Linked DNA regions of Homo sapiens: regions 1, 2 and 3 are each linked to region 4. The links come from fine-mapping of genetic effects on gene expression. A gene starts in region 4. Each other region holds a variant in brackets. All regions are shown on one strand. Distances are between the middles of the regions.

Evidence for each region. PIP is the estimated chance that this variant, and not a neighbour inherited with it, causes the effect. A credible set is the group of variants that fine-mapping cannot tell apart.
Region 1: its variant is the best candidate, but not a certain one, in a credible set for the expression of GHR in fibroblasts (GTEx, PIP 0.53).
Region 2: its variant is the best candidate, but not a certain one, in a credible set for the expression of GHR in anterior cingulate cortex (GTEx, PIP 0.83).
Region 3: its variant is the best candidate, but not a certain one, in a credible set for the expression of GHR in lung (TOPMed, PIP 0.85).

Annotation. Positions count from the first base shown.
Region 1 is chr5:42,232,013-42,237,812 of GRCh38, forward strand. No RefSeq gene overlaps it. Among named protein-coding and RNA genes, the nearest start is that of LINC02996, 60 kb to the left of the region's middle. The variant ACTGT/A (reference allele first, on the strand shown) is at 3,407.
Region 2 is chr5:42,711,442-42,715,441 of GRCh38, forward strand. GHR (growth hormone receptor) reads left to right here. Exons shown (of 10, transcript NM_000163.5): 8 at 1,988-2,078. Among named protein-coding and RNA genes, the nearest start is that of CCDC152, 43 kb to the right of the region's middle. The variant TG/T (reference allele first, on the strand shown) is at 1,929.
Region 3 is chr5:42,794,248-42,800,047 of GRCh38, forward strand. It overlaps CCDC152 (coiled-coil domain containing 152), which reads left to right. Exons shown (of 9, transcript NM_001134848.2): 7 at 2,582-2,709; 8 at 5,128-5,211; 9 at 5,412-5,800. The coding sequence ends at 5,534. It overlaps SELENOP (selenoprotein P), which reads right to left. Exons shown (of 5, transcript NM_005410.4): 5 at 5,633-5,800. Among named protein-coding and RNA genes, the nearest start is that of SELENOP, 15 kb to the right of the region's middle. The variant CTT/C (reference allele first, on the strand shown) is at 2,525.
Region 4 is chr5:42,419,816-42,425,450 of GRCh38, forward strand. It overlaps GHR (growth hormone receptor), which reads left to right and starts at 3,624. Exons shown (of 10, transcript NM_000163.5): 1 at 3,624-4,140. RefSeq lists promoters at 2,907-3,992, 3,416-3,988, 3,598-3,698, 3,896-4,664, 4,317-4,664 and 1 more, cis regulatory regions at 2,907-3,415, 3,753-3,793 and an enhancer at 3,620-3,769.

The DNA.
Region 1 (5,800 bases), 190 kb before region 4:
CTCCATCCATCACCAGTGTGGTACATTTTTTACAACTGATGAACCTACATTGACACATCAGTATCACCTAGAGTCCATAGTTTACATTAGAGTTCATTGTTGTTGTACATTCTATGAGTTTGAAAAAATTTATGACATATATCAATTGTAGCATCATATAGAGCAGTTTCATGGCTCTAAAAATTCTCTATGCTCTATGCCTACTTATCTCTCCCCAAAACTCCTGGCAATCACTGATCTTTTCGCTATCTCCACAGTTTTTTATTTTCTAGAATATCATATAGTTAGAATCAAACAATATACAGCCTATTCATATTGCCTTCTTTGACAGAGTAATATGTATTTAAGCTTCCTCCATGTCTTGTTATGACTTAATAGCTCATTTCTTCTTACCTCTGAATACTATTCCATTTTCTGTATATTCCATAGTTTATTCCTCCATTCACCCACTGAAGGCCGTCTTGGTTGCTCCCAAGTTTTGGCAATTATCAATAAAACTGCTATAAACATTTGTGTGCAGGTTTTTGTGTGGACATACATTTTTAACTCTTTTTGTAAACACCAAAGACTGTAATTACTGGATCATAGAGTATGAACAGGTTCAATTTTATAAGAAAATGCGAAACTGTCCTCCAAAATTATTTTATCACTTAGCATTCTCACCAGCAATGAAAGAGTTCCTGTTGCTCCATGTCGTGAGCAGCATTTGCTGTGGCCATTATTCAGGATTTTGGCCATTCTAATAGGTGTGTTGTGATATCTCATTGCTATTGGAATTTGCATTTCCCTGATGGAATATTATATGAAGCCACCTGGATCTGCCATCTGCATATCTTCTTTGGTGAGGTGTTTGTTGAAGACTGATATAGTTTGGATATTTGTCCCCATGCAAATCTCATGTTGAAATGTAATCTCCAGTGTTGGAGGTGGGACCTAGTGGGAGGTGTTGGGATCATGGGGGCAGATTCTTCATGAATGATTTGTGCCATCTTCTTAGTGATGCTTAATATCTCTTGCTCTAAGTTCACATAAAATCTGATCATTTAAAAGTTGGTGTCACCTCCCCCACCAACTTTCTCTCTCTTGCTCCTGCTTTTGCCATGTAATGTGCCTGCTCCAGCTTCACCTTCAACCGTGAATAAAACCTTCCTGAGGCCTTCCCAAAAGCCAAGTAATGTTGGTACCATGTTTGAACAGCCTGCAGAAACATAAGCCAATTAAACTTCTTTTCTTTATAGATTACCCAGTCTCAGGTATTTCTTTATAGTAATGCAAGAACAGCTTAATATAAGATTTTGGGCCCATTTTTTAATCAGTGGTTTGTTTTCTTTTTGTTGAGTTTTAAGAGTTGCTTGCATATTTTGGATAACAGTCCTTTATCAGATATGTCTTTGCCAACATTTTCTCCCAGTCTACGACTTCTCTTTTATTCTCTTGACTGCATCTTTTGCAGAGTAGAACATTTTGATTTGAATAAAATTCAGCTTACCAATTCTTTCATGGATTGTGCATATATGTAATTGAATAGATTGCTGCTATCATTATTTTGAATAAGCTCTTAGATTAAGGAAAATAAAAATTTTAATTTTACCTTTACTTATTCCTTCTCTTATGCTCTTTATTTATATAGATCTGAGTTTCTTTTCATTCTCTCCATGGAACTTTATAAAATTTTATTGCAAGGGAGGCCTACTGGCAACAAATTTCCTTAACTTTTGTTTGTCTGAGAAAGTCTTTATTTCTCCTTCACTTTTGAAGGATAATTTTGCAAAATACAGAGTTCTAGGGTTGGTGTTCTTTTTCTCCCAACACTTTCAATATTTTATTCCATTCTTCTGTTGCTTGAAATTTCTGAAGAGAAGTCAAATGTCATTCTTATCTTTATTCTTCTGTAGGTAAAAGGGTTTTCTCCCTCTGACTTCCTTCAGTGTTTTCCTTTATTTTTGATTTCCTGTAGTTTGAAAATGATATGCCTAGATGTAGTTTTGTTGTTGTTGTTGGCAGAGAATACTATGAAATCAAATGTATCCACAAGAAATATATTTTTTCTTTTTTGTTTTAATATTTTATTGCATATATTTATGATATACAATATTGGTGTTTTGATATAAGTATACCATTACATGTAAGCTGCACCTTTTGTAGGTGTCTCATGGTTCTTGAGTTGTTTGTTTTTTTTTTCTATTTTTTCAGTTTAGAGCCAATGATAGAAGTGCTCTTGTTGGCTGACCACACACAATCTAAAGCTAATCCCCACTTTCTTGAACCCACTCTAAAATTACCTATGGTGTGCTTTCTCCATTACTGCAGTGAGTAATTAAACCAAATTTATTTCAATGGCATCTGTGTTCATGGTGGTCTTTAGCTGGAGGTAACTGACAAACAAAACATCAAAAGTACATAAAATACAATAATGTTCACTGTGGCAATGTTTAAATAACAAAATACTGTAAAGCAAACTAAAGGTCCATCCTTTGGGTACTGAAAATAAATTTTAGTCTCCCTTTTAAGGGAATACTATGTACCTTTTCAAAAGAATGAGGTATATCTGTGTGTGCTGATATGGAAAGATCTCTAAATTATGAAGCAACAAAGCCAAGTATAAAAAAATGTGGACATTATAACTCAATCTTTATGCATCTTTAAATGCTGCATAATACCTTTTGCTGTTCTCAACTGCCTTTTAGAAGAAGCAGAAGAAGGAGGCACAGGAGTAGAAGAAGATCTTAGAAAGAAAACAAAGAAATATATTTGCCTTTTCATTTTCTACAGAGGCACCATGTTAACACAATTCAATAAGAATTTACTAGACACCTACTAGACACGAGATATTTTGCTAGGTCACACAGGAAAAGAACAAGATAGGATCCCTGTCATTTAGGTACACAAGATTTGCAAGCAGAAAAATATATGTTAAAAAGTGAGAAAATCTGGAATATGATAAACTCAAATAAAAATGCACAGTTCATGGATATAGAGTAAGATTTATTCTGTTTGGGGCATCATTGAACATTTCATAGAGAAATGGAATTTGAGCAGGACATTGAAAACAGAATAAAATCGGGTGATTGTGATAGAGAAGAAAGTGTAGGTGAAAATTAGTGGACATAGGAAAAGCATTGTGAGTGCTCTGGAAATGAGCACTTCAATTACACAGTACCTGGCACATTGCAAAACACAATGAATATGTGTTGAATAAACAAAATGTGGAAATGAATTAATGCTGTACAAAAAGAAGAAAAGGGGCCAAGGTGACAGTTTGCCCACTCCTACCAAAATGATATGAATAAGAACAACAAAATATTGTTCTGGAGTTGTGAATCCAGCTAAGTATTTTTCAAGGGCTTATATCTGTTTTCCAGTGTTCCCTTGAAGAATTCACATTTTGCAATTTTAAATTATTGCT[ACTGT/A]CTAAGGAGTTTGAGTCAGATAATTAATGGGTACTATTGGGAAATAAAACCCTGTGGCATAAATTTAAAGTTTCACTTATTTTGAGGCAACTTTAGAATCACCTGACTTATGAGAACACACAGGTCAACTCTTTCCCACCTATCCCCAAAGAGTGCAGGGCAGGCATAGCCTGGATGTTCAATATTTGTCAGATAGAAACTAATATAATCAAAATCCAGGTCCTTTGTCCACAGAATCACGTTTGTTGTGCTCTGTAAATTAATCATTTATGTGGTGACAGGATGAATAATCCAAAAGCTTAGTTCATTTCCTATCAAGTAGAGAAATAATGATATTTGAAAAATGAACACAATAATATTTGATGTTTCGATAATCAGTCTTATTTGATCAAATTTCCCATAGATTCTGGAACAACTAGTGATAGAGGAATTATTTCTAAAGGGGACAGAAATTGTGGCAGCTTTGTCTGCTTTATTGACATTAATGGTACCAGAAAAACCCATTGTATGTGCCCAGCCAAGCCACTTCCTCTCTATCATGTCTCTGGACTTCTGACCCAGCACACTCACACCGGAAGTCTCAGGACTGCATAACAAGCCATAGTGAACATCGAGTCCCCAGCTCAAGATATTTCTGGAGTTTGCCACTACACTGTAATATGTGCCAAGCAGAACCAGAAGCTTTTCGCAAATAGTACATCCCATTTCTTCCTCCCACAGGAGCCCCTAAGCAACCCTTAGTTCATGACCTGCTTGCTTTTCACTGATCTCTTTCTGTCACCATCAGATTAGGTAACACTGCCTCTCAGCTATATGCTCTCTGACTCCCCAGATGAGGTGCAGAACTTCTGCATGCAGCCCAGGCTTGGTTAGTCTGTATATGCTGTTATAACAAAATACCTGAAACTGGGTAATTTACAAACAATAGGTATATAGATCTGGAGGTTAGGAAGCCCAAGATCAAGGCACCAGCAGTTGGGTGTCTAGTGAGGGCCAGGGATCTGGCTCCAAGATGCCACCTTGAATGCTGTGTCTTCACATGATGGAAGGGATAGAAGGGCAAAAGGGCCTAGCTGGTTACCTCCAGTCCTTTTATGATCACATCCTGTTCATGAGGGCTGTGCTCTCCTAATTTAATCAGCTTTTAAAGGCTATACTTTTTAATACTATCATATTGGTGATTAAGTTTTAACATGTGAATTTTAGGGGACACACTTAGACCATAGCACCAGTATAATCCAAGATCTAGAAAAATATGATTAAAAGTGTCCTGGTTGGTCTATACTAGGCTACCTAAAAAAAGAGGAGGGCCAGAGAGGCAGTCCTTATTCTTAAGAACCATTTGAATATGACATCCAAGAACATGAGAGAAACACCTGGGAACATCTAAGGCTGCATGTCCCCCGGATAGGAAACCAAATATTTTGAGAAAGAGTATCAAGGCAAGCATAGTGACCCATGTAGTACACTGGGGTTTCACCCAAGTGGTTTAGAGGCTTAAGCAGTGGCTTTGAAATGTAGTTATATATGTGCTAGCATGTTTTTTTCCAAATATGCATGCCTGGGCTTACCTAGAAAAGTAACCTGGATCTCTGATAGTGGAAGGTAAGTAATTTGTATTTTCAGAAAGCTTCTCAGATCTGATTGTTGTTCTTGCTTAAGCACTGGACTTGAGTAAACTAGAGGTATTGAATATAAATATCATGGTTAGTAGCTTTATCCATCCGCCTGGGGGAATGGTCTGGATTGTGTTTCCCAGTAGAGGGATCAGTACCTATATCATTTGGATTGCTTTGCAAGGGAGTAGGAAGAAAGGAGAAAAGTGGGGAGAAAAGTAGCTTACCACTGGGATGCCCTGCGTAGAGCTAGGTATTGAAATTATAAGGCTCCAGGAAAGATCTTTATCTTGTGTGCTGGGGTTGAATTGAGTGGTCGGGGAGCAAGGGAATGGTTATTTGTGTAACCCCAGTTTATAATTCCCTCTGGATTACAACTGTAAAGAAAAGTTTCTTTCAGTGGTTTAGGTTAACAAAGGCTTTCTTTATGGTGGTGGTGGCAGGGATTCTGTAGCTACCACTAGTGACAATGATATTGTATAATAGAGCTTCTAATTTTTTTCCTATGTCCATTCCTGGGCCACAGATACTAAGGAAGCTGAAGTGACCATGAAAGCTATACCGGGTGATTTGCTTTGGGAAAGATGGCTCCACATTGGTGTGGGAAAACTGATTCACAGAATTGTGGGGTTCTTACAAGGTGTTCCAGGCCATTCAGTTCTCTTATATCTTCTTGGTATAAAAAGTGCTTTTTTCTTTTTTTTTTAAATTCATCAATAAAATTTGAGGTGGTAGCAGTTAGTTACTCGCCCACATTCGAGGTGGTAGCAGTTA
Region 2 (4,000 bases), 290 kb after region 4:
GCACTGGTAGTGTGTTGTCCAAATCAAAATATATTAACATCAGATATCAGGATGAGAGACCTTGAGCTCACTATCTGTAACAGATATTGTTCATTGCAAAAGCAGAAGGAAGATTTAGTTTCCAAATTTTTCATTCAGGAGAAGTCCGGGGGGCAGGTGGAAGTTTAGAGACAGGAATTTGGTGGCAATCTCCGGATGGTAGAATTCAGATGATTCTTTTCTTTATATATTTTTATATTTCTGAAATTTTCTATAGTAAGTTTGTTTTGAATTTATAATCAGGAAAAAAAGCTGTACTGATGGTTAGGGAAGAAAGTATGTATCTATATGGATGGATAGATATGTGACATCTAAGAGGAAACCCAATATTGAGTCAGCATAGGTAGTCAACAGCAGGTGCATACGGTTTTAGAAAGCGGAGGTGTGGCTTTTACCTAGAGGAATGCCTAATAAGTAGTGTGGCAGTCATACTTAAAGGAGACGTGGAACATTTGAAAACCCTATGTAGGAGAATCACAACAATGATTAAAGTTTTTAAAAATGGGACCTATGAATTTAGAATAAAAGAATTAAAACTTTTAGATACAGAAATAAAGAAAACTGATTAATGATGAGCAGAAAGTATAGAGTATTATTATTCTCAAATGGGAAATGGCTCTATTCCATCTTCATTGAAAACAGAAGTTTACAGGGCTATATGTTTGTTAATGAAACAACCACAAGCTACATAGAAAATAAATTTATATTTCTGTATTTACTATACAGGTAGAATCTCATGATACTAAATAGCATTAGGATGAAAATTTCTATAGCACCATTTTCTCTATACTCTAGTTAACTGAATTCTTGTTTCCAAACTATTTGATATTATGCAATTCTGGCCTTAAAAGTACAATAGCTATACACCCTTAAGCTTAGTGTAGTGGCATTTAATTCACTTAACATATATTTTTTAAACTGCCTTTTCCTTCTGTTACTAACAAAAAAGAAGCTCTAACTTTATGTTATTTTCCTGAATATGTCATTGATATGAAATTATAGACACTACAAGACAAAAAATGATTTTTTCTCCCCCACCAATTCTTTAAAATGCTTATAATATCTCCCTAGGGGATTTTAATAACTTTTTAAATAAGAAAAGACTATTTCAGCATAAAGACCTACATTTTAAATGGCAATGTTAAGGTAAATTTCATCTGTCATTTTTATAAAAAAGTGGTTAGCCTCTGCCTCTGTGGTAAGAATACTGGGTACCAACTGCAAAGTAGCTGGCAGGTACTCAATCTTAAGGAATGAAATAGAAGTTTTACAAACAGGTTCCCCCAAGTCTCATACAAAGTATACTAAAACCTGAAGATGGGAGCCTCAGTAGTGATCTTTCTGTCAATTTTATGTATATAATATACATGAGATATATTTATTATATTTTAATAATTTAATTTATTGATATAAATACGTATATTTATAGCTGTAAAATATATGTTATTTGTGTCTAAGAAGTTTCTGTCATGATTTATCAATAAAAACTCTGCCTTCATCTTTTTGATAAATCTTCAATCTGGAAACTAAGAAAATCACCACACTTAAAAAAAAATAGAAAAGAAACCGAGTGGGCATTATTTAGGTAGTGTGTTAATAAGCAACACTTTTTTACTGAAGCTGAAACCTTTATGATACTCCCTGGACACATAGTATGCTTAAAGCAGATTGTTTGTTTTCATAAAACACACATTGATTTTGAACTATATGCTGTTTCTTTATTTTGAAGTTTTTTTTTAATGTGAGGAGATTTGAAAAGTGGACAGAGATGTTCATAAAACAGAAAAAAACTAAGTCGTTGCATTCTGTTTCAGTGGTTATCAAGAGAAATCACTGACTTTATTAGATGAATACAAATTATGAATTTTTTGTGAAAAGGGAAAGGGAAA[TG/T]TAAACTGTGCTTCAACTATTCGTAATTCTGAAAGCGAAATATTCTTGTGTGTTTCAGATTTCTACTTTCCATGGCTCTTAATTATTATCTTTGGAATATTTGGGCTAACAGTGATGCTATTTGTATTCTTATTTTCTAAACAGCAAAGGTAGGTGTGGAGTAGTATTCTTTGGTATTTTGTACCAGTTGTTTAGATTTCCATATGTGTTTCTATTTGTTATTTGATATTTTCTTTGTCAAATTATGAGTGGAAATTTTAGTTAACCTAGTACACTTTTATCTCCAGTTATATATTTACCATTCATATAAAACTCAATTTGTTGTATTTATCTTAGACAATTTAGAGGTTTAGATTCTATCTGGAGACTTGTACAGGACATTAAGAGGCTTAGGCTGGTGACTATGCATACCTTGTGATATGTACCTCTTTATCCAAGAGCTAGCTCTTTCCCTCAAGTCCTCAACAAGTTGACCCATTCATTCCAGGACTTCAAAGTATCACTGAGCCTTTGGCTGAGTCTGATACAGTCCTTATATACAGACAATTTTTTTTTTTCCTTGAGACGGAGTCTTACTCTGTTGCCCAGGCTGGAGTGCAATGGCGCAATCTTGGCTCACTGCAACCGCCGCCCCCCAGGTTCAAGCAATTCTCCTGCCTCAGCCTCCAGAGTAGCTGGGATTACAGGCATGCGCCACCAAGCCCAGCTAATTTTGTATTTTTAGATACAGTTTCACCATGTTGGTCAGACTGGTCTCGAACTCCTGACCTCAGGTGATCTGCCCACCTCAGCCTCCCAAAGCGCTGGGATTACAGGCGTGAGCTACCGCGCCTGGCCCCATTTAAGGTATTTTTAAAGTCCCAATGGTTAATCTTGTTGCTTCTCCTAGAATTAAGGTGACTAACACTCCCAGGTTGCCTAGAACTCTCCTGGTTTTTAGCAATGCAAGTCCGGTGTGCCAGGAAATCCCTCAGTTCCAGGTAACCAAGACAGTTGATCCCCTTACCTAGAATTGAAAATACGTTCTCCAGCTGAAGCCAAGAGGCATCTATAAATCAAAATGAGATCTATGTTAATATATTTTAAAAGATTTTACTTTGTTTTGTAAGGTAGTATAGCACTTGTAAACTTCAAAACAGAATTTTGTTAGGAAGAAGAATTATTGGGACGCTAGATTTCTATAGTGTCAAGCATGCTAAAAGTCTAACTGAATGCAGAAAGGGTTATTTTCAGTAGAGCTTCATGTCCAATTTTATAATATAAACCAATTGGAAAGTAAAATTCATTCTGAATTCCATTTTGCACCTAACTTTCTGGCAACATTCCTGTTTTCCAAAAAAGCAGCTATCATAAATCACAACACAATTTTCTATTGTTTCAGGAAAATAAATAAATATATTTTTAGAATTTTAATTTGTGTATTTAAGTAATGCCAACAACAAAAAAGCCAAATTATTCTGTTGATTAATTTCAGTTTATTAATCTATATATTTGGTGGGAAAATTTATACATAACTTCAGTAGATAAACTCACGAGGTATGTAAAGTAATTAGCTCTTAGTATTAGCTGTGAATTTCTAGCCATTGTGAAGGCCAAGTCAATTTGTTATGTTGTTTAGTTATATTAGTTAACAATATTAGGAAGAAAAAATTATCCTCTCAAAAAGTAGGATTTCCAAGAAAACATATTACTTCTAATACAGTGCTTTTTATAAATAATGAAATGCTTAACTATAATGTTTAGTCAAAATCACCAAATTCTACAATTGATTTGAAATCTTTATTGTTCTCCCAAATTTCCTGCACTAAATTGAATTTTCTGTAGGAAAGAATTAACTTTATTTTTTATTTGCCCATTAAAAACGCTTATCATTGTCTAAATTTGCATGTTCTACTGAAAGTGGGAAATAGTAGCAAATATTTGTCAGCAAGTATGGACAGAACATGTAGTTCCAACAATTAAATTGATACTGCAAAGAACGAGATTTTTCCTAGAACTGTAGGGCTGTAAAGTGGCGTCAGGTCCTACATGCCTTTGAAATTTTCTGAGTCCACAATTCATTATCCAACCC
Region 3 (5,800 bases), 370 kb after region 4:
AAGTGGAAATACTGAGAACAAACTGGAATTTGCATCTTTCTTATACCTCCTTCGACCTTAATGACATGACGACCTGCAGGAAAAGATGGTGCCCTACGCCATTGAGCTTCAAGGACACCTGGCCTGAGACTTCTAGCAGCTAAAAAAAGAAATCTGTTGGGAGCTTAAGAAGCTGTGGAACCAAACGTTTTTCCTTATTACTGAGATGATCCTTTGATAAGTGACAACTTGTATAAATTGCACTGTTCCCTGGGGCTCTACATTGACCTTCAAAAAATAATAGCTGCTGATTTGGTGAGCCAGAAGGCCAGCAACACCATGTGTGAACTGAAACACTGCCCAGCATCCTATACTAAACATCAGAGAAAATTAGTTCTTGCTATACTTCCATCTTCCAAACCTTGTGGAGATTTCTCTTACGGCTAACTCTACCTTAGAACATATAGACAAGGGAATTCTGGAAAACATAGTTCTAATTTAGCTAAGTTAACATAGTACAAAAACACCAAAGACAAAAGGGGGAATAAATGGAGTTAAAATGTTTTTAAGGTTTGTATCATGTCCATAAAGTGATAAAAGTACTAATTTTATTAAATTCTAATAAGTCAAGTAGGCATGCCATAAACTCTAAGATAACCACTAAAGGAAGAATAAAAGAATATTTATCAAGCTAATGATTATCAATCTAATAGAGGAGGAAAAAAGGGAAGTAAAAATAGTTATTCTGTCTAAATGAAGATGAGAAAAAAGAGAGAAATGAACATAAAATGTAAAAGCCAACAAATAATAAGCTAGTTGATTTAAACCCAAATATATTACTAAATGCATTAAGTTAAACTTGAATGAATTTCCAATTAAAAAAGATTGCCAGATTGAATAAGTATTAAAATCTGCTACTATCCTGCTTTCAATATACCTAAAATACAAAACTATAGAAAGATTTAAAATAAAAGATGGAAAAGAATATAACATGCAAATAGTAGCCAACATGAAGCTGGCATAGCTATACTAATATTGGACAAAGTATACTTTAAAGCAAGAAGCAGTTCTAGAGCAAAAGATGGATATTTTGTGATGTAAAGTGTTTGATTTACCAGGGAAATAAAACAACAATTCTAAATGTATATGTACCAAGTAAAATTCGCAGAACTAGTAGGTGACAGACAAATCCACAATCATAATGAGAGACTTTAATTCACCTTTTAGTGGTAGAAAAGTACATACAAATATGCAAAATTAGTAATGATATAGAAAATTTAAGCAACAAAATAAACAACTGATACTAATTGACATAAATGATATACCCAATAAATGCGGAATACGTATTATTTTCAAGTATGCATGGAACATTTAAGAAAGTTGACCATATCATAAATGAAAAAGTAAATTTCAACCTATTTCAAAGGTTTAAATCATACAGAGTAGGATCTACAAATTTATTATCTAAATATCTATATCAGAATACCATTTGACCCAGCCATCCCATTACTGGGTATATACCCAAAGGACTATAAATCATGCTGCTATAAAGACACATGCACGCGTATGTTTATTGCGGCACTATTCACAATAGCAAAGACTTGGAACCAACCCAAATGTCCAACAATGATAGACTGGATTAAGAAAATGTGGCACATATACACCATGGAATACTATGCAGCCATAAAAAATGATGAGTTCATGTCCTTTGTAGGGACATGGATGAAATTGGAAATCATCATTCTCAGTAAACTATCGCAAGGACAAAAAACCAAACACCACATGTTCTCACTCATAGGTGGGAATTGAACAATGAGAACACATGGACACAGGAAGGGGAACATCACACTCTGGGGACTGTTGTGGGGTGGGGGAGATGGGGGAGGGATAGCATTAGCAGATATACCTAATGCTAAATGACGAGTTAATGGGTGCAGCACACCAGCATGGCACATGTATACATATGTAACTAACCTGCACATGGTGCACATGTACCCTAAAACTTAAAGTATAATAATAATAAAATTAAAAAAAAAAAAAAGAAAGCTAGGAAGCCCTTCATTGTGGGGCTTGTAGATTGTCTCCTTTCTCGTTAAAAATAAAAGATTTTCTTGAGCCTCTCATCCTAGATGTCATGGTGTCATTAACAGGAATAAGAAAGTTGGGAGAAGAAGAAATTTGATAAAGCATAAAGATATGATGTGAACATGAGAATGGCCTGATCATATGGAATAGTATAGCAGGGGCTTCATGTAGCTCTAGAGTCATCCAGTAGTTTGAGCCCTTCATACCTAGAAACTCAGGCTTTGTGTCCCTCTTCAACCACTGTATCTCCCATTTATTTTCCAGGCCTTTGATGTTTAATAGTTTAAATTACCTTATTCATTCAAAAATATTTGGCAAGTGACTTCTGTGTCTCAAACATTATTCAGGGTCTTGTAAAAAACATAGAAAAGCTATTCTATACCTACACCATTTCTAAAATATGTTTCATTAATAAAATTTACTTTTTTAGGAATGATTTAAAACACTAAAGAAATACAAA[CTT/C]ATAATAATTTTGAAATTTTTAACAAATGAATTTTATTTATTTCATTTTATTCAGTTGAATTAAATGAAGAAAAGCACAAAGAACTAATAGAGAAAAAGGAGATGGAAATTTCAGAGTTAAATGCAAAGCTAAGAAGTCAAGAAAAAGAAAAACAAAATGAAATAATCAAGCTACAACTAGAAGTAAGTGTTTAAGAGTCTGCTAAACTTGAGGACACATCCCTTAGTCTAAACTGTACTTTGATTGTTTTTCATCACAGTGAGATACATTTTAGGATTAGAAGCAATTCTGTGAGAGGGCTTCACACATGCTCATTCTCCACCAAATGATTGCAGTAATCACATACCATACAACTGTCATCTGCATTGCCTTTCAGCACTTGACCTGAAAGTGGACCCTTGAGTTGTTCGAAAGTTCCTGGTTTTTAGGGAGGATATTGCTTCCTCTGAGAACTTTTCTTCTCAGTATTTCCCACTTGACATCCAACTTTTCCTTTTAACTGCAGGCCTTTCTGACTGCAGCAACTTTAGGCCCAACACTAGGTGAGAGACAACAGCCTTTCATAGACTTTACTACCAGTTCCTGTGTCTCATATGCTCTTTTCTGTATATGTCATTTTCTTGTTTTTCCCTGTCTCAGGGTAGATATTTTCTTCTAACCTATTCTCCAACTTACTAATTCTATCTTTAGTGTATCTAATTGGCTATTAAACCAATACAGTGAAACTTTATTTTAGCTATTGTATTTTTAGCACTCACATTTCCCTGACAGAAAACTCAAGGATTATCTGCATTTTATGGTAAATTCTATGTAGGTTTCATAATTTCTACCATTCCAGCATGGGAAGAATGTTTCTAACGCTTCACATTTATTCTCATCCCAGCCGAAATTTGTCAAAACCCAGTAACCAACTAGAAATTTATTTTGCTTTATTTCTCATTAAAAAAACAAATTTCTTCCTAATAACTTTCTGGAAGAATATATATCCTGGGGGCAAACAAACCAAATTCCTACAATTTTTTTTTTAAGGGACTTCTAATAGGGCATCTCAAAGGCTGAGGCTCTAACTCTTTGCTCAAAAGTCTTGAGTAGGCCGGGTGTGGTGGCTCACACCTATAATCCCAGCACTTTGGCAGGCCGAGGCGAGCGGATCACCTAAGGTCAGGAGTTCGAGACCAACCAGGCCAACGTGGTGAAACCCGCCTGTACTAAAAAAAAATTACAAAAATTAACTGGGCGTGATGGCAGATGCCTGTTATCCAGCTACTCAGGAGGCTGAGGCAGGAGAATCACTTGAACCCGGGAGGCAGACTTAGCAGTGAGCCGAGATTGTGCCACTGCACTCCAGCCTGGGCAACAGAACGAAAAAAATAAATAAATAAACAAACAGTCTTGAGTAGTTCATTTAACCGGATATCACAATCTCAAATGTACTTTGACAAAATATTTGTCCTTTAAATGTTTTCTAGACTCTATCAATCTACCCTTCCATCATTCTTCCGTTGCTTCCCCCCACCCCAACTTTCATTTTACCTTGTAAGAATTCACAAGTCTTAATTAAAATCACATACTACTCATATTCCTGAAACTTTGGAATCCCCAGGGTACTTGGTGAGTTACCTTGAGTAATCACTGGGCAGAAAGAGGACTGATGTTGACTTTAGATACCCTTTGCTGCTGGTGCTGCTGCTGCTGCTGCCATCTGACCAAGTGTACCACAAACCACAGGAAAGGCTGAATGGCCAACTGAAATTAATAGGCCATGTTTCAAGATCTACTACCAACTTCTAATCCTCCTCTGTTTGGAAATTTGCATTTTGTTTGCCATTTGGGCCTTATCACTGGTCTATTATTTGACTGGTATACACAGCTCCTTATTTGTTTTCATTGTACCTAACCATTTCTCTCCTCAAACCAGAGCATAATCTCAGAGTTTATTCTTAGTCCTCAGAGAGGCTATGTTAACTAAATCTGAAGAGAAGAGTTATATAATGGAATATTGTGCAAAAACAAAAAAAAATTGGCCTGTTAAGAATGGCCTATGAGAACTTTTTTAACCTGATTCAGTTTAATTGAAACCAGCAAGGGTTCAAACTATATCGACAAGATCGTATTCAAATTCTACTGTTCAGCCTCAAAGTTCCTGCAGAAAGCTAGGTGAGGTTTTCTTCCTTGACTGTTTATTACATTTTCTTTATAATACACTCATTTTAACGTAAAAATATTTTTACCTATATTTAAGTTAAACTAGATTCTAAACCCTGTCTGCACTATAGAATCACGTGATGTTTTGAGAAAAAGATGACGCTAGCTGCACACCAGAATCTCTAAAGTAGTGCCCAGGCATTTGGTACTTTAGAAACAAAGAAAAAAAAAACCTCTCCAGGTAATTTTGCCGTGCAATCAGGGTTAATCTTGTTTTTCTGTTCTTTGCTCTTTCTGAAAAATTATTTCTTAAAGAAAGATTTTTCTATTGTCTATACTGTAATTTACACCTGAATTACAGATTACATGTCAAAGGATAACATGGATTATAATTATAGAAACAATTGTTTCTAATTGTCTAGAGTTTCAATAACTTTCTTTTCAATTTGATTCAGTTTGATGCCAAACTAGCAAGAGTTCAGACTAAATCAAAATCATATCAGGATTCTACTGTTTTGCCACAAAGTATCTACAGAAGGGTATGTGAGTTTTCCTCTCAGTATTTGTTGCTTAAGAAAACTTTCTAAGCATGTTTCTATAAAAATCATCTAATTCTTATTAACAATATAAGGTATTTTTTAAAATACCAATAGCAGAAGTGCATTTCTTTGTTATTTTGTTGTTCCTTGTACTAAATTTTATTTCTGAATTCTAATAACAAATTTTTTGTTTCGTTTAGAAACTTCAGCATTTTCAAGAAGAAAAAAACAAGGAGATTGCAATTCTTCGTAATACCATTCGCGATTTAGAGCAACGCCTTTCTGTTGGCAAAGATTCTCACCTTAAGCGTAGACGGTTTTGAGCTTAGCAGTAAATTCATTAGTTGGTATTTATTTAAAAGCAATCGAAAGTTTCACTTCTGTTTTCAATATATGCATACAGCCTACATAACAAACGAAGTCAGCTTTAAGGTTTTTATTGAATTTATTTGGACAAATCCGTACTGTATCCAATTCTGTACTGCATTCTTGCTTAATAGTATTAACCATAAAGGAGGTCAGGTTTATAGGGTTTGGTTTACCTATTAAACCATCATTGACTATGGAAATACTTACTAAGCAATATAGA
Region 4 (5,635 bases):
ACCCCTTCCTTCTATAGGCCAAGAAATGGAGTCATTGTGAGATTAGTAACTAATTTACCCAAAATCACAGAGGACCCACACAGGATCCCAAGGCTCCTGACTAACAATCCTATGTTCTTCAACTACAAATGCTATAAAACAAAACAGCTATAAAATGCTACTTTAAGTGTTTTGGCCTCTTTTGTTTTGTTTTGAGAAGAAGCTTTGGCATTTTATAGTACAACAGAGTGACTAAAGCCATGCTCTAACCTCAGATAACTGTAGATTTAGGAAGTTTATACTGTGGTGTTTTATGGTTTGGGGAGATGGCGATCTGACCTAGATATCTGCACTTGAATATATATAATCAGAATTATTTTCTAATTGTTTCTATTGTCTTCAAGGCAGTTTATATTTTTTGCTAAGCCCTACTGGGGATGTATAAAAGACTGGGGAAGGGTGGGCCATAATAAGGTAAGGCCATAATAAGGTAAAATAGGTTGGACAAGATAAGTTAGCCAATATCTGAGTAAAGACTTCAAGGAACTGTAGGAGGAAGCAAATGAATATTTGTGGAAGTGTGTTTAAATCAGAGAGAAAAGCCAGCAAAAAGCCTTCAAGTTAGGAGTCTGCCTGGCCTGCTTAAGAAACAGCAGGGAGGCCGGTGTGCTGGGAGCAGAATGGATGACCCAGTGATGGGGAAATTCATGGGAGATGAGGTGTGGGGCAAAGGTACATAGCTCACGTAGGGTCTCATGGGCCATTTTGAATTTTATTCTGATTTGAATGGGGAACCATTGGAGGGTTTTGAGCTGAGGAATGACATGATATTAATTTTAAAAGGAATGACTATGGCAACTGAATTTATACTTTGGGTTGTTGTTGGTGTTGGTTGGGGATTAGGGGTGGGGTTTGTCAAAGCAAGCAGACCAGTTGAGTTGAGAGACTACTGCAGTAATCTGAGAAATTCTGGTGGTTCAGACCAGGTGTCTCTGGACCTCTCCAAGAAAATAGACAGAGTTTTGAATGTGGAATGTGATTGGCAGAGAAGAAGTAAGGATGATTTCAAAGGTTTGTGGCCTGGGTAACTGGCAGGAAGTAGTTGCCATCTACTGAGATGGAAATGTCACCCACTGTGATTGGAGTATGTTTAAGGAGAAAGAACCAGAGTTCAGATGTGGACATGTCAAGTTTCAGAGGTCTGTTAGACATCCAAATGGAGATACCCAGTTGTTAGCCTGGAGCTCTGTGGAGAGATCTGGGTTAGAGATATAAATCCAAGAGATACAACTTTTCATTCAATTTGATTATTTATTGGACGCTTTATAAACTCTGTAAATACTGGGCACTAACCTAGACATTGCAGGTACAGATATTAAGAATATATAGTTTCTCCCTCAGAAATCTCTTAATTAATGAGAAAAGCAGACATGTCAACAAAACTGCAATATTTAATAAAAGAAGATATAAAGGCCTATAAAGGTGCTGATACAGGGAGAATTAATTAATTCCACCCTGGGGAATAGTCAGGAAGACCTTCAGAGAGAAAGTAAACAATTGATTGGAACTTTAAGATTAAGAAGGATTTCTCTGGGTGGACAAAGTAGGATCTTCCAAGCAGAGTGGAAACCATGAGCAAATGCAGTTTCATTCTTCAGAAGGTAAATGTGCTCTGGCATGCCTTAACTTATAACAAATTAATCAACTCAATACCTGCTACATTTTCCCTCACAATTTGGAATATATAAAGAGGCACATACTACTATGGACCAATACCTGGTCATATATGAGATTGAAGGACCTTTACTTACGAGGCTTAAAAATAAAGACTGCCCTTCATGTCAGTTGCAGGTTTATATCTAGTTCTATAGTATTAACTGAGGTGTCTTTTCCTATGTTTTCTGTGCATGATGACTTTTTAAAAATCAAAGACAGAGCAGCAGCCAGAGTAGTCTAGTTTCATGGCACACAGAATGGAGGATATTGCTGAACCCAGATTTAAAAAAAAAAAGAAGTCAATTCTTATTTTTTTAAGTATGGCCCTGAGCTCATCTCAGAGCATAAACAATAGAATTTAGAATATCTTTTATGACTCCGTCTGGCACCTCCTAAACTAGATCAAGATTCTCTAGCTCAGGGAAGAAGGGCAAAGGATGAGAAGGCACAGAGAGGATATAAACAGAGAGGTTGGTAGTGCCAGGCTCTGAAGAAGGTCCAACTTGGAAGGTCATTTCAGACAGGCGTGGAGTCAGCATTTGAGGCCTGTCTGGTCTCTACTCCTGCCAGGACTACCCTGTCAGCCAGCTTGGCAGGTATGGACCACCCAGCAGGAGTTTTTCTTGACTGTGCCCTAATCTTTTACTTTCCCAAGTTTCTCTATATGGGTACCTCCCCTTTTAAAAGCTCCAGACACAGCCAAGCACCACTATTGCTCCAGCAAAGTATGAAGCCCCAGAAATCAATGGTTTGGGGAAGAGTCTTAGGGGAACTAAATGCCTCCTTATTTTTAGATGCCATAGAACAAGAGCAGTTCAGGATCAATAACCATCCCACCCCATGATAAAACACGCCCCTTCCAGAATCTTTCCTTTTTCGTTCATTCTAGGTGTCTGTCTGGAACAGCTGGGGTATTTGAGCCACAGCTGAGCTTCTGAAAGCATTCTAAGGAACAGTTTTTCACTTATCTGATTCCTTTGAAAATAGGGGTATCTTATGTGATATCTGCTATCCCAGAGTCTTTGGTCCTCTGTTCCTTCTCAAGTCTTGGCTCCCGTGTACTACTTCAAAGCCCTATAGATATTTTATTCTAAAGAAAAGAAACTTGGTTCCTTTAAGTTGTTTAAACATTTCTTTCTGGGTATAAACTTGGGTTTGTGTCTGGGAGCTCTGTTAAAAAAAAAAAGTCTTTAGTAAGCCAAAGCTGTTAGAAGCTTATAAGTAAGTGACATTACAATTGACCGTCAGTAAATAGTGGAAAGATTGCATGACTAGCTACTCCTTCAGATCTGAGACAACCTGGAGCTAGATTTTTGTACTCTCTACTCAGAAAAGCATATAGTGACTTGGGGTTTGATGCTGTACAAAAATGACATGCTTATGCACAACTTTAACTTTCTGCAACACTTTTACAACTTCTTGTGAATGAAGTAGGCAGGGCTCGCATTTGACAGATGAGCTATGTCCAGCGTGAGGCAGAGTTAAAACCCTTTTCCTGGCTCAGGAACTTCAGGCTGGGGCCTGTGTCTGCTCTCCCTGCATCCCTGTCCTCTAGCAGATACCTCTCTGCTAACATGCTGAGTGTCCTTGGTAAATTACTCATTCTCTCTGTCTCCGTCTTCTAACCTCCACAATAAAGTCCTTCGTAGTTTTAACTATCTTTTCACTGTGCCCCAGTGAGCAGGAGTTTGGAACTTGATTGTTGATGGAAAGGCAATATTTGGATGGCTAAACACGCTTTCCAAGGTATCTCGCTGATCTTCCTCTCATTCCTGGAGATAGCTAACCTTTTTGTAAGTGTTTCTTTGAGTCTGTGGACTGCACTTAACGCTCTTGTAGGTCCTGCTTTCATTTGGAACGGGCAGGCGGAGAGGAAGGAAGTGTATTGCAACTACCAATATTTTCCTCTAGGAGGAGCCGCGCAGCTCAGTTGAGAGTGACACGCACCAACTCCAGCTCCTCGCCGGGAAGACTTCATCCCAGCAACTCGGAATGCTTGGCCCGGGCGGCACTCGGCCTCTCCGCAGCAGTTCTCGAACTGGCCTCCTTGAACGTCCGCTTCGCCTTCGCTTCTGCAACCTGGATCTGGGGGACTGCGGGCCAGGCGCGGCGTGACCCCTGGTGAACGGTGGCCGCCTTTTCCCACCCCTGCCCTCCCATCCTCCCTTCCCGTTTCACCCCGCCCCCTCTCTCCTCCCCAAGCCTGACAGCCCGCGAGCTGCCAAGCAGGGCGCAGCCATGGGAAGAGGAGGAGGGCTAGGGAGCGGCGGCGGCGGCGGCAGCGGCAGCAGCAGCTGCTACAGTGGCGGTGGCGGCGGCGGCTGCTGCTGAGCCCGGGCGGCGGCGGGGACCCCGGGCTGGGGCCACGCGGGCCGGAGGCCCCGGCACCATTGGCCCCAGCGCAGACGCGAACCCGCGCTCTCTGATCAGAGGCGAAGCTCGGAGGTACTGGAGTGGGGCTCCGGGAGTCTGGCTTTATTTTCCTCCTGTTGTGCCAGGGGGCCTGAGGGTGAACCCTGGGACTCTAGTTGTTTATGAAAACGGGAGGATCTGTCTTATATATTTACACGGATAATTTTTTATTCCGGATGACTTGGCTGTGCTCCCCTCCTCCTTGCGAAGAAGTTGTTTTCTGCTGGTGGGTTGTTGTAACCCAATCTAGTGTGTGTGTGTGTGTGTGTGTGTGTGTGTGTGTGTGTGTGTGTGTGTCTGGAAGTTGGTGAGGGCGGCAGGGAGTTGCGGGCGACAGACGAACCATCACACTCTGGCGTCTGCTCTGGCCCGCGAGTAGTGTACGTGGAGGGGTTTACTCCGGAGACAGTTTTGTTAAAGTCATAAAAGTTTTGCTAGTGTGTTTCTGTTTGCCATCATCTGCCTGGCTGCGGCAGGAACTGCCGAGGCTGCTGCTGTTGCGCGGGGAAGAATCCCCGGCAGCGCGACTGGAGAGACTGGGGAGGTCGAGCTGTGCGCGTGGACACAGCGCGCAGAGCGCGCGGTCTTTTGCGCGTTTGTGCGGGCCGCAGCCGCACGTTGGCACCGATGGAACTGGGGTCAGTAGAGTGACAGCCACCAGTCCGCATGAACTGGGGTAAGTGGAAATTGTGGCGAGCCGACCTCCCCCAGCTTTTGACACACTAGTGGTTGTAAAATCAACCAGGCTTAAAGTTTTGACAGAACTGCCAGAGGCTGCGGGTCAATGGGGTGGCCGCGTGTCTAGGGAGAGGGCGCTGGCGGCGCAGAGGGTGCGGGGCAGGGCACTTGCGAGTGCGTGGGGAAGTCTATTTGGGGCGAGTGCTTTATATATAGCCCGAGGGGATGCCTGCTGAGACCGAGCTGCGGGGGCTCTCGGTCTGGCGCGGACTGTGTGTCCTGAATGAGTGTACGTGTGCGCTGTGTGTGCGCGCGCGAGTGTGCGCCTGGGGAGGCGTGTCGGCGCCTGAGCCAGTAGGGTGTGCAGGGTGGAAGAGGCCACAGAGGTGCCGCCTGTCTGTTTGTGCCGCCAGGAGACCTTGGAAGGGACAGAGAAAGGTAACGGAAGGCCAAAGTGTTGGGAAGTCAGAGTAGTTTCTGCATAGGATTAAGTATTAAGGGCTTTAAAATAACTAAACGCATTGCCCTGAGTGGCTGAGGACTGGAAGTGAGGTTTTGGGGAGTTCTCAGGAGAACTGCATGGGAGGGCGTTTGGGAGGTCTAAGGGATGTGTAATATGTGTGAGTACAGAACTTCGGAGACAGACACAGGTTGGAGCTATGAATTTGAAATTTTCAGGGTGCTGCTGTCCACAGTCCAGGGACTGGCTGGTTTCAGAGGTATTCAGGCTCCCTGGTGTGTGTGCCTGGGAAGACACTCATCTTTTCTTGCAGACATGGGATATTGTGGCAGGTCAGGCTCTGTTTCCTGAGCAACTGGTGTTCCAGGCTAGTTTCCACCTGAATCACCC